3 linked regions of the Homo sapiens genome follow. The protein of the gene in region 2 purifies or fractionates together with the protein of the main gene of each other region. This does not show direct contact. Each region holds a gene or a part of one and is shown on either strand. Other genes may lie near its edges. The genes, in order: TMEM131L, SLC47A2 and VPS13A.

What was found.
Region 1: the proteins of SLC47A2 (region 2) and TMEM131L purify together in Homo sapiens (affinity purification with mass spectrometry; one large-scale study listed by BioGRID and IntAct). This does not show direct contact.
Region 3: the proteins of SLC47A2 (region 2) and VPS13A purify together in Homo sapiens (affinity purification with mass spectrometry; one large-scale study listed by BioGRID and IntAct). This does not show direct contact.

Annotation. Positions count from the first base shown.
Region 1 is NC_000004.12:153,605,851-153,609,504, reverse strand, and holds part of TMEM131L (transmembrane protein 131-like isoform 1 precursor), read right to left. Parts: intron 1-3,654.
Region 2 is NC_000017.11:19,682,041-19,685,694, forward strand, and holds part of SLC47A2 (multidrug and toxin extrusion protein 2), read right to left. Parts: intron 1-3,654. UniProt on the Homo sapiens protein: Multidrug efflux pump that functions as a H(+)/organic cation antiporter.
Region 3 is NC_000009.12:77,337,880-77,341,533, forward strand, and holds part of VPS13A (intermembrane lipid transfer protein VPS13A), read left to right. Parts: intron 1-1,636; coding exon 1,637-2,032; intron 2,033-2,298; coding exon 2,299-2,403; intron 2,404-2,524; coding exon 2,525-2,671; intron 2,672-3,654. UniProt on the Homo sapiens protein: Mediates the transfer of lipids between membranes at organelle contact sites. Binds phospholipids. Required for the formation or stabilization of ER-mitochondria contact sites which enable transfer of lipids between the ER and mitochondria.

The sequences.
Region 1 (3,654 bases), on a different chromosome or scaffold from region 2:
GTCATTTACAAATGGGGTCAATCCATGCAATATGGTTTGGTTCTGTGTCCCCACCCAAATCTCATGTCAAATTGTAATCCTCAATGTTGGAGGAGGGGCCTGGTGGGAGGTGACTGGATCATGGGGGCTGACTTCTCCCTGGCTGTTCTCATGATAGTGAGAGAGTTCTCACGAGATTTAGTTGTTTAAAAGTGTGTAGCACTTCCCCCTTCACTCTCTCTTCCTCCTGCTCCCACCATGCAAGACGTGCTTGCTTCCCCTTTACCCCTCCACCATAACTGTGTTTCCTAAGGTCTCCCCAGAAGCAGAAGCCTGTACAGCCCACAGAACTGTGAGCCAATTAAACCTCTTTATAAATTATCCAGTCTCTGGTATTTCTTTATGGCAGTGAAAAACAGCCTAATACACCAAGTCATCCTATTAAGTGTGCAACTTCCCCATGACCTCACTGAGTAAGAGTGTACCACAGTTAAAAATCAAAAACAAATGGAAAGAACACTAATAATAATAAAGGGGGCAGGAGAAGACGTTGGGAGGTGCACATGTTAATGCCCTTCACGGTGGTAATGGTTTCACGATGTACACTTATTCCCAAACTCATCAAGATGCATACATTAAGTATGTACAGCTTTATAGGTCAGTAATTCCTTTTAAAAGTGGTTAAAAAACAGAAACAAATGGAAGAACAAGACACAAGTGATCTCCTCAGTAACCTGCTTAAAGTTGTACTGTCTCAAATCTAATCACAATCACGTGGTCTGTTTTGAATAAACCATTAAATCTTCATTTCAAGTTAATAGTATCTGTAAGTAAATAGGAACATTTTTGGAATTTCTGCAAATACCAATAATTTCAGAAAGGTGAGGAATGTAATTCAGTGAAAACTTTCAGGTACTGTTAAGCTCAAGGCTTGAGCTATTATCAAATTTAATTATACCTTTACATTATTACAGGTAGAAACCCGTGAAATAATTTGCTCACTATTTCTCCTTGGTAGTGCTGCGGCCAACCATAGCTTGTCTTTAGCCATAACTCTAATCTACATTATTTTGATCAGACAGTGAAAATGGTTACAAACATTTAAAAAGAGCTATATTCACAAGATCATTTACATTACACATAAAGCCCCACTCTTGTCAGATGACCAAGAGGTTCTGGAACGTATAACGAATGTTTGACAAGTTTAACTGTTTGATAGTTGTTTGACAAGTTGATGCCAAAAAACAAGTGTAGAAAAACAGAGCCCTAAAGAATGTCAGCAGACTTTATTTCTATTGAGAATTTTAATTAATTATTTACTACAGGCCTCTCCGAAGCAGGCAGGGGAAATGGAGTAGAAAAGGGACACATTTTTTTTTTCATTTTTTGTTTTTGCTTTTATTTTTGAGACAGGGTCTCACTCATTGCCCAGGCTGGAGTGCGGTGGCACAATCACAGCTCACTGCAGCCTTGACCTCCTGGGTTCAAGTGATTCTCCCACCTCAGCCTCCCAAGTAGCTGGGACCACAGGCCCATGCTCATGTACCACCATGCCTGGCTACATTTGGCTACTATACATATACATATACTTCTTTGGGTAGAGATGGAGTTTCACCAGGTTGCCCAGGCTGGCCTGGAACTCCTGGGCTCAAGTGATCTGCCCATCACGGCCTCCCAAATATGACACATTTTCTATTACTTACAAAATATTATGTTTCTTGATGGCAAGTATGTAGTCAAAGCCATTCATACATACCCTAGAACATTTTCTTCTCACACAATAAGCTACACCCGGGGGTGGGGGGAAGCCTCAGAATAGGAGAAGGCAGATTATTCAGGTGCCTCCAGGAGTTCTGATAGTTAGGAAAATCACTTAAGGTATTCTTAAGAGGCGGGACTGTCCCCACCTTTCCCTTTTTCCCTTTAAAGGCAATCTTATGACTAGAATGGTTTCTACAGACCATTTGTATACTTTGGGAGAAATGGCTAAAATGTGGCAAACACACTGAGTGAGTTCCCATTCTGCTGGAATCCTAACTGCCAGTCACACAGGAGACAACGTGACTGGCACTTAGGATTCTCAGCTATCAGGCAGGTTGAGTCCAGCTCAAAGACCAAGCTGTTTTCTTCAGATTCTAGAAAAGATCTTACAATGGAAACAGCACACATTTCACAAAGTAAAATACTTTTCAAAGCTAGCAAAGAACTAATGCTCAAAGCTGGAAGTAAAAACTTAAAGGTTCTTATATATATGCTTTTCTCATTCTCAAGCATTCTTTGCACTTGTGACTTACCTGTCAATTATACGCGTTTATCATTTGCCAAGTTATTGCAATGCTTTCCTCTGAAATTCAACAGAGCCCCAAACCCTTAATATTACTAAAAAAACTCCAAACCCTCCCTTCAGACTATAATTATCTTTCCCTAGATTTTTCAGTCCTTTCTTATTTTTAATATTTAAAATTCTTGAACAATTTTAAATTGTACATGGATAGCAGGCAATTTATTCACTTTTTAACATCTCGGATATTTTCCCAGGACAGTGCTGTGAACATAAAACAGTCAGAACAAAATGCATGTCCATGTACAAACTTCCCTGGGAGGAATCTCCTGCTAACATATAACTTCTGCAGACACGTAGAGGACTGTGAATTAGCACCTCTGAATTTGCTGGTCTGAACATGGTGGAAAGCAAAAGTTCTTTCCTCAGCTCTTACTTGATCTGATCAACAATCACTCTGGTACCACTTAACATGCTGCTGATCCAGCCAAACAGTATTTTTAAATTCTGGCAGTGAAAGATTTGTTGCCATTTAAAACATTATAAGCATACTAGTAATCTGTACAGGAAGGAAAGATTCTGGGCAGGTTTACCATCTACAATGATACAGGCAAACTCTATGTTTCCAGACTCCCATATTAAATTTACTCACGCTTATTAAAGTGTTATTACCTGCTCATCTTGGCTCAGCTATTGGCATTGAATGTCAAGTACTAGACAGGAGGATCCTGAAGAAGAATTCAAATCCTCTGACCTACTCTGACACTACATTTCTCATCCATGCCTTTATATTTCAACTGCTTTAAAGTATTAAGATATAGAAGGTCCCTCCCATCCATCTACCACACTGCCACGGGCATTGCATCTTGCAGGCACATATCTCTTGTGGGCACAAGCGATCACAGAAGAAGCACTTCTGGAGGGAGGATTCCCTCAACTCTAATTTCAAGTGTGTGCAAAGTCATCCTATGTCAAAGACTGTGCTCAAGCCTAAAAGACTCACGTAACAGGGGAAATGTCCAACAGGACTCACTCCATAATTCACCTTTTCACAAATGTTTTGTATTCTAGACCCCAGAGAGTGTCTGGGAGAGAAACAGAATAAGACACCCAATCACCCCATCATAATACATCCACAGACAAGGTATGCCATGGTTTGATTTGAAGATCTGGGTGAACTGCATTACCAGGGGGCATACTCACACGCCAGGTGGAGGAGACAGGGCACAGTGTCCACCCTGCAGACATAAGTCCACTTCAGGCGTGTGCACCACTGCCAGGGGAAACGGTACAAACGGGTTGGACTAAATGCACCAAGAATGCATGTGTGCAGCTGCCTAGACCACATTCCCCTCAGAGGACTCCAACTTTCTTTTAAATTAGAAATGTCCTTA
Region 2 (3,654 bases):
GCAAATTACTGCAAATATTGTGGCTTAAAATAACATAAATTTGGGCCGGGCATGGTGGCTCATGCCTGTAATCCCAGCACTTTAGGAGGCTGAGGAGGGCAGATCACTTGAGGTCAGGAGTTCAAGACCAGCCTGGCTAAAATGGTGAAACCCCATCTCTAAAAATACAAAAATTAGCCAGGCAAGGTGGCACTGTAATCCCAGCTACTTGGGAGGCTAAGGCACGAGAATTGCTTGAACCTAGGATGCACCACTGCACTCTAGCCTGGGCGACAGAGCGAGACTTGGTCACACACACACACACACACACACACACACACACACAAATTTATTATTTTATTTTACAGTTCTGGAGGTTAGAAGTTTGAATTGGGTCTCACTGTGCCAAAATCAAGAGCTTGTTCCTTCTGAAGGCCCTAGTTGAGAATGTGTCTCTGCTTTTTCTAGCTTCTAGAATTCCTTCTGTATTCATTGGCTGGTGGCCCCACATCACTCTAACCTCTGCTTCCAGCCTCACATCTCCTCTGACTCTCCTGCCTCCCTCTTCTAAGGACCCTTGTATTTACATTGGGCCCACTTGGATGACCCAGGATAATCCCCCTATCTCCAGATTCTTAATCACACCTGCAAAGTCCCATTTGCCTTGAAACACTCACAGGTTCTGGGGATTATGATGTGGACGTTGAAACTTGGGGGCCATTATTTTGCCTACCATGCATGGCAAACAGTGGTTGTTAGCTTATTCCATATGAGACAAGCAGCCCTCACCCACTGCTGTCTGTGATTATGTCTCATCTCAAAGATGAGAATTGCTCTGGAAAAAGTACTGTTTATTTCATTAGTCTCATTTTCCCAACGTGATTCCAGATCTTCTGAACTACAGGCACAGCTCATCCTTGGTCAGGATTATTGGCCAATAGATATTTGGTTATTTTTATTTTGTTCCTGTGAGAGGTGGGGAGTATTTTGTGGTTTGTACACATTTGAACAAAGAGGTAATGCACTGGGGTTAGGAGATGTATGCCTCTTGAACTTTGTAATATGGTATGTATATTTCTGGTTATTATATGTCATGGCATGATCTTTTTTGGCTAAAGACTTCTCCCAAATTATGATTGATGTACCCTGGACCAGTGTTTCTCAAATGGGGATGACAAATTCTGGGATGTTTTTGTTGTGACAACTGTGGGGGTGTGGTGGGGGAAAGTGTTACAGCATCTAGTGGGTAGAGACCAAGGATGCTGCTAAACATCCTACAATGCCCAGGGGACCGCCCTCCCCCCACCAAACAAAGAGTTATCTGGTCTAAAGTGCCAGTAGTGCTGAGGTTGAGAAACTCTGATTTAGAGTATTGTGAATTAAAGTGGCAATTTCAGTGGCAGGAAGGGCCAGTGGCTTTGCTAGCCTGAGGTTGTGGGCCTGTTTGGGAGAAGCCATCGACCAGTGGACTAGGCAGGGATTTAAGAGGGAGTTTGATGAGGTAAAACAGCCAAGGGAATGGGGAGGTACTGGTAAGTTCTCTACATATCCCAAGCTGACCAGAGGCTGTGCATATGGTGTAGCAGAGACCAAGCCTCCCACATGTTCCTGGACAATGGAGCCTGTCCACATGGGCTGAAGAGACCCGTAGTACCCAGAAGAAAGTAAAAGCCAGGACTCACTTGAAAACAGCTGGAACTCTGAATACGTCTCTAGCCCACACATGGATCTGTCAGCAGAGAATGGAAGCTTTGCTAGCTATCAGAGGTGTTGAACACAGTCTCTGACCAGTAATTGGCTGAACACTAAGCTCTGCAGACATTTTTAATCCTAGAAAGAACATTTTAAACTAGAAAGCTAGACTTAAAAAAATAAGAACAAGGGGGAAAAAACTGAGCAAGAGACATCAGCAGCTGTACATTGTAGAGGAGACAGGAGTCACAGAATCAGTCTAAGCAAGTTACTTAACCAACACAATGACATTCCTTGGGTCTCACATGCAGCATTCTCCAGGATAGACCTGCGGTAGGCCACAAAACAAATCTCAATAAACTAAACTTAAAACAATCTTTTTTAAGAGATGGAGTCTTGCTATGTTACCCTGGCTGGTCTTGAACTCCTAGGCTCAAGTAGTGCTCTCATCTCAGTCTCCTGAGTACCTGGGACTACAGGCACATTCCATCATGCCTGGCAAATTTTGAAAGACTGAATTCATACAAAGTATGTTCTCTGGCCACAACAGAATTAAATTAGAGATGCCTGCCAGAAATAAAACCCCAAATATTTGGAAATTAAATGCACTTCTAAACCATAAGTCAAAGAATAAATCACATGAGAAATTTAAAAATATTTCAAACTTGAAAATTTTGATGAACATCAAAATTTATTAGATGCAACTAAGGCAATGCTTAGAGGGAAATGTACAGCTTCAAATGCCTATATTGGAAAGGGAGAAAGGTCTCGAATCAATGACCTACTATTCTACCCTAAGAAGCTAGTAAAGAAGAACAAACTATACCTAAATGAAGTAAAAGGATAAGAATGTAAAAGATTAGTGTGGGCCAGGCATGGTGGCTCACACCTGTAATCCCAGCACTTTGGGAGGCCAAGGCAGGAGGACTGCTTGAGGCCAGGAGTTAGAGACCAGCTTGGGCAATATAGCAAGACTCTTTCTACAAAAAAAAAAAAAAAATTAAAAGTTAAAAAATAAATAGATAAAAGATTAGTGTGAAATCATTGAAATAAACAGCAGAAGACTAAAACATGCATCTATTAAAAAAACTACTTTTCGCCCTCTCCCTCTCCCTCTCCCTCCCGCTCTTGCTCTCGCTCTCCATCTCCCTCTTTCTACGGTCTCCCTCTCTTGCGGAGCCTGGACTGTACTGCCATGATCTCGGTTCACTGCAACCTCCCTGCCTCAGGCTCCGGTGATTCTCCTGCCCCGGCCTGCCGAGTGCCTGGGATTCCAGGCACGCGCTGCCACTCCTGACTGGTTTTTGTATTTTTGGTGGAGATGGGGTTTCGCCGTGTTGACCGGGCTGGCCTCCAGCTCCTAGCCTCGGGTGAAGTGCCCGCCTCGGCCTCCTGAGGTGCTGGGATTGCAGACGGAGTCTCGCTCACTCAATGCTCAATGTTGCCCAGGCTGGAGTGCAGTGGCGTGATCTCGGCTTGCTACAACCTCCATCTCCCAGCTGCCTGCCTTGGCCTCCCAAAGTGCTAAGATTACAGCCTCTGCCCGCCCGCCACCCCATCTAGGAAGTGAGCAGCGTCTCTGCTTGGCTGCCCATCGTCTGGGATGTGAGGAGCCCCTGTGCCTGGCCACCCCATCTGGGAAGTGAGGCGCGCCTCTGCCTGGCTGCCACCACGTCTAGGAAGTGAGGAGCGTCTCTGCCTGGCCGCCCATCATCTGGGATGTGAGGAGCCCCTCTGCCTGGCCGCCCCGTCTGGGAAGTGAGGAGTGCCTCTGCCCAGTCGCCCCATCTGGGAGGTGAGGAGCGCCTCTGCCTGGCCGCCCCGTCTGGGAGGGTTAAATGGATTAAGGGCGGTGCAAGATGTGCTTTGTTAAACAGATGCTTGAAGGCAGCATGCTCATTAAGAGTCATCACCACTCCCTAATCTCAAGTACCCAGGGACACAAACAGGGCCGAAGGCCGCAGGGACCTCTGCCTAGGAAAA
Region 3 (3,654 bases), on a different chromosome or scaffold from region 2:
TAAATATTTCATTTGCAGTGCTTATCAAATGGAAGAAAGTAGTTCTTCATTGTCATCTATTATAGGTTTATTTTACTTTTAGAATTACCATTTGCTTTTTAAAAAAATTTTTTTGAGACTAGGTTTCTCTCTGTTGCTCAGACTGGAGTGCAATGATGCGATCATAGCTCACTGTAGTCTCAAACTTCTAGGCTCAAGTGATCCTTCCACCTCAGCCCCCCGAGTAGCTGGGACTACAGGTGCATGCCATGCCTGGATAATATTTTTTAATTTTTAATTTTGTAGGGACAGGGACTCACTATGGCTTGTCTTGAACTCTTGGGCTCAAGTGATCCTCCCGCTTCGGCCTCCCAAAGTGCTGGAATTACAGGCATGAGCCAGTACACCCAGCCGTTTACACTTTTCTGATACATGTCTCTTTTGGAGGAAAAAGTTAACATATTTATGGTTTTAAATGTGTATTTCCATATTGAATAACAAATTATCATAGTGGTTAAGAATTTGTACTTTGCTGTCAGGTAGATTTGAAATTGCATCCTAGCTCTGTCATTTGCTAGCTGTATGTTCTTAAGCAGGCTTTATTGCTTTTCTAAATCTTTTGCTGTGGTCTGTAAAATGAGAATAATAATAAAATTTGCTTGGTTAAGACATGGGGGAAATCAAATTAGATTGTGTATGTAAAGGATTTGGTACAGTGCCTCCCAGACACAGGGTTGCCATTTATTTATCACTCTAGCACTACCACCACCATTGTTATTTTGTGGAATATTATTTAACTTGTAAAGAATCAAGAACTCCTTACTTTTGCTTTAATTAATTTAAAATCATGAGATGAAGAGATTCCTATATTATAATAATAGGAAAAGAATAGGATAGAGATGCTGGAAAAACTGGTGAGATATTCAGATGTACTGTCAATTTATATTTCTGTTCTCATAGAACTTTTAATTGGATGCTGTTAGTGATCACATTCTGTCTGCCAGTTTCCAAAGGGTGTGATCAGTTTTTAGAAAGACAATTGAGCCATGGTGTGGGGAAGGGACTAGAGGGGACAAGAGCGGTTAGGGGACTCTTAAACTGAGACGTCATATAGTGACATGAACTAAGATAATAGAAGGGAGGGTCGAGGGAAATGAGCAGTTTGGAGAGATACATATGACGTAATAATATAAACAGTGATTGGAAATGGGTGATGAGGGATTGTGGAGGTAGTAGGGATTACTTATTTTGGATTACCATCAGTTTTTGCCCACATTTTACGTTGTTTTGTAGTTTTCAAAATAAAAATCACGAGTGGTTAAGATTGTCTTTTTGTCGTTGTTTTACCAATTATAGTGTTTTATGTTTATAATTTCCAGGGGAGTTTCCCATTATGTTATTTAATCTTCACAGTTTGTCCTTTGAAGTAAGTCATTTAGACCATTTTACAAATACAGTAGCTCAAATCTCAGATTAAATACCGTGTAGAGGTTTACACAGTTGACAAAGTTAGAACTTGAATGTAAGTCTTCTGACTTGTTCTGATAGGTATTTCAAAAGCATTTTTTGCAGCATTTGGAATACATAAATAGAATTTTGAGGCATATTATTCTGCAACATTTTAAATTTTGTTTTGTTTTTTTTTTTTTTATTACAGGGAATTGAAAATTCGGTTTTTACTCTAAGTGAAGGACATTCAGCCCAGATTTGTACTGCACAGTTGGGTAAAGCCAGGCTACATTTAAAATTACTTGACTATCTCAATCACGATTGGAAAAGTGAATATCACATAAAGCCTAATCAGCAAGACATTAGTTTTGTCAGTTTTACTTGTGTTACAGAAATGGAAAAGACTGATTTAGATATTGCTGTCCATATGACTTACAATACTGGTCAGACAGTTGTGGCATTTCATAGTCCTTATTGGATGGTCAATAAAACTGGCCGCATGTTACAGTACAAAGCAGACGGAATTCATCGAAAGCATCCACCTAATTATAAAAAGCCAGTTCTCTTTTCTTTTCAGCCAAATCACTTTTTTAATAACAATAAGGTATGCGATGTTTATTCTGTTTTTCCCTTGTCTTTAGCTACTTGTCACTTTTTAGTTTTTAAAGTTCTGAGTAATAAATATTATGAAACTTGGATAGAAATAACTTGTTAAATATTTGAGGCCAAAAAGATTAGAATTTAATATTATAAAGGTTTAGTGCATTAACAATATAATATTTTGTTTATGCTAAAAAGTAATTTATCAGTTTAAGCAGGAATTTTTAAAGGTACCTAAATTGTGATGTATTTGGAATATTTTTTTCCTAGGTTCAACTTATGGTAACTGATAGTGAGTTGTCCAATCAGTTTTCAATTGATACTGTTGGTAGTCATGGAGCTGTTAAATGTAAAGGCCTGAAAATGGACTATCAAGTGAGTTCATTCTATGCTTATCAAGAAACTTTTATTTTAAATGTTTCTATTAACTACTTAATTAAATTTTATAAAGATGTTATACATAACAGTTTTTGAGCTGTTAATTTTTTTTTCTTAGGTTGGTGTCACTATAGACCTGAGCAGTTTTAACATTACTAGAATTGTGACATTTACCCCTTTTTATATGATTAAAAACAAAAGCAAATACCATATATCAGTGGCTGAAGAAGGAAATGATAAATGGCTCTCTCTTGATTTGGAGCAGGTGGGTAGATGAATTTCAAAAATATACCTCTTTGGATTCTATTTTCTCCTTGAAGTTAGATACCTAAAGTCACCATGTAATGTTTTAACTCTCCCCTTACTCCAATTTTGTTTTAGTTTCATGAATCTTTATTGAATATTTGTGCCCTGCTCTAGATAGATGGGAAGGTTCAATTTTTAATAATTAGGTAACTAGGAATGCCCAGCTTGTTAAGGGAGGTAGACGTTTAACAATTACTAACCACTTTGGTTAAATAAAGCAGCCAAAGACTAGATAAGATGTAAATGCACCAAAGAGAAGGAAATTACTTATTCTCTCTAGGAAGCTATTAGGAATGCTTTCAGAGAGTAGGGTAAGCCAGACTCTTCTTCAAGTTATTTGAGGAGAGTAGTAACTTAGAAGTGAAATTTTGATTTTGTGCCATCATTAAATCTTTGAATAAGAGTTTTCTGAATGACTGACAGAGGTTGATGGAATATTTTATTTTTGAAGAACTTTTATTCTAAAAGTTAGGATTAGAGAAGTTTTTGCTGTTTCTATTCATTATTCCTTTTTGCATACAAAACCGTCCTTGTTGGGATTATTCTTGAAGTATATTCTTTAGAATTTCTTTTAGAGCTGGTTTTGAAGGTAAATACCATCAGTGTCTCTAGAAAAATCTCTCTGGCGGGAGGGACAATGATCGGGATATAAACCCAGGCGTTCCAGGGGGCAACGGCAACCCCCTTTAGGTCCCCTCCCATTTATGGGAGCTCTGTTTTCACTGTATTAAATCTTGCAATTGCAAAAAAGAAAAAAAAGAAAGAAAAATCTCTCTGGCTGCCTTCAGTCTTCTCTTTGTCTTTGATGTTCTGCAGTCACACTGCTATATGTCTATATGTGGTTTACTTTTTATTTACCCTTCTTGAGGTGCTTTACCCCTAGATCTGTGGATTAATGTATTTCATGCTTTCTGTAAAATTTGCTACTATTGTTTCTTTAAA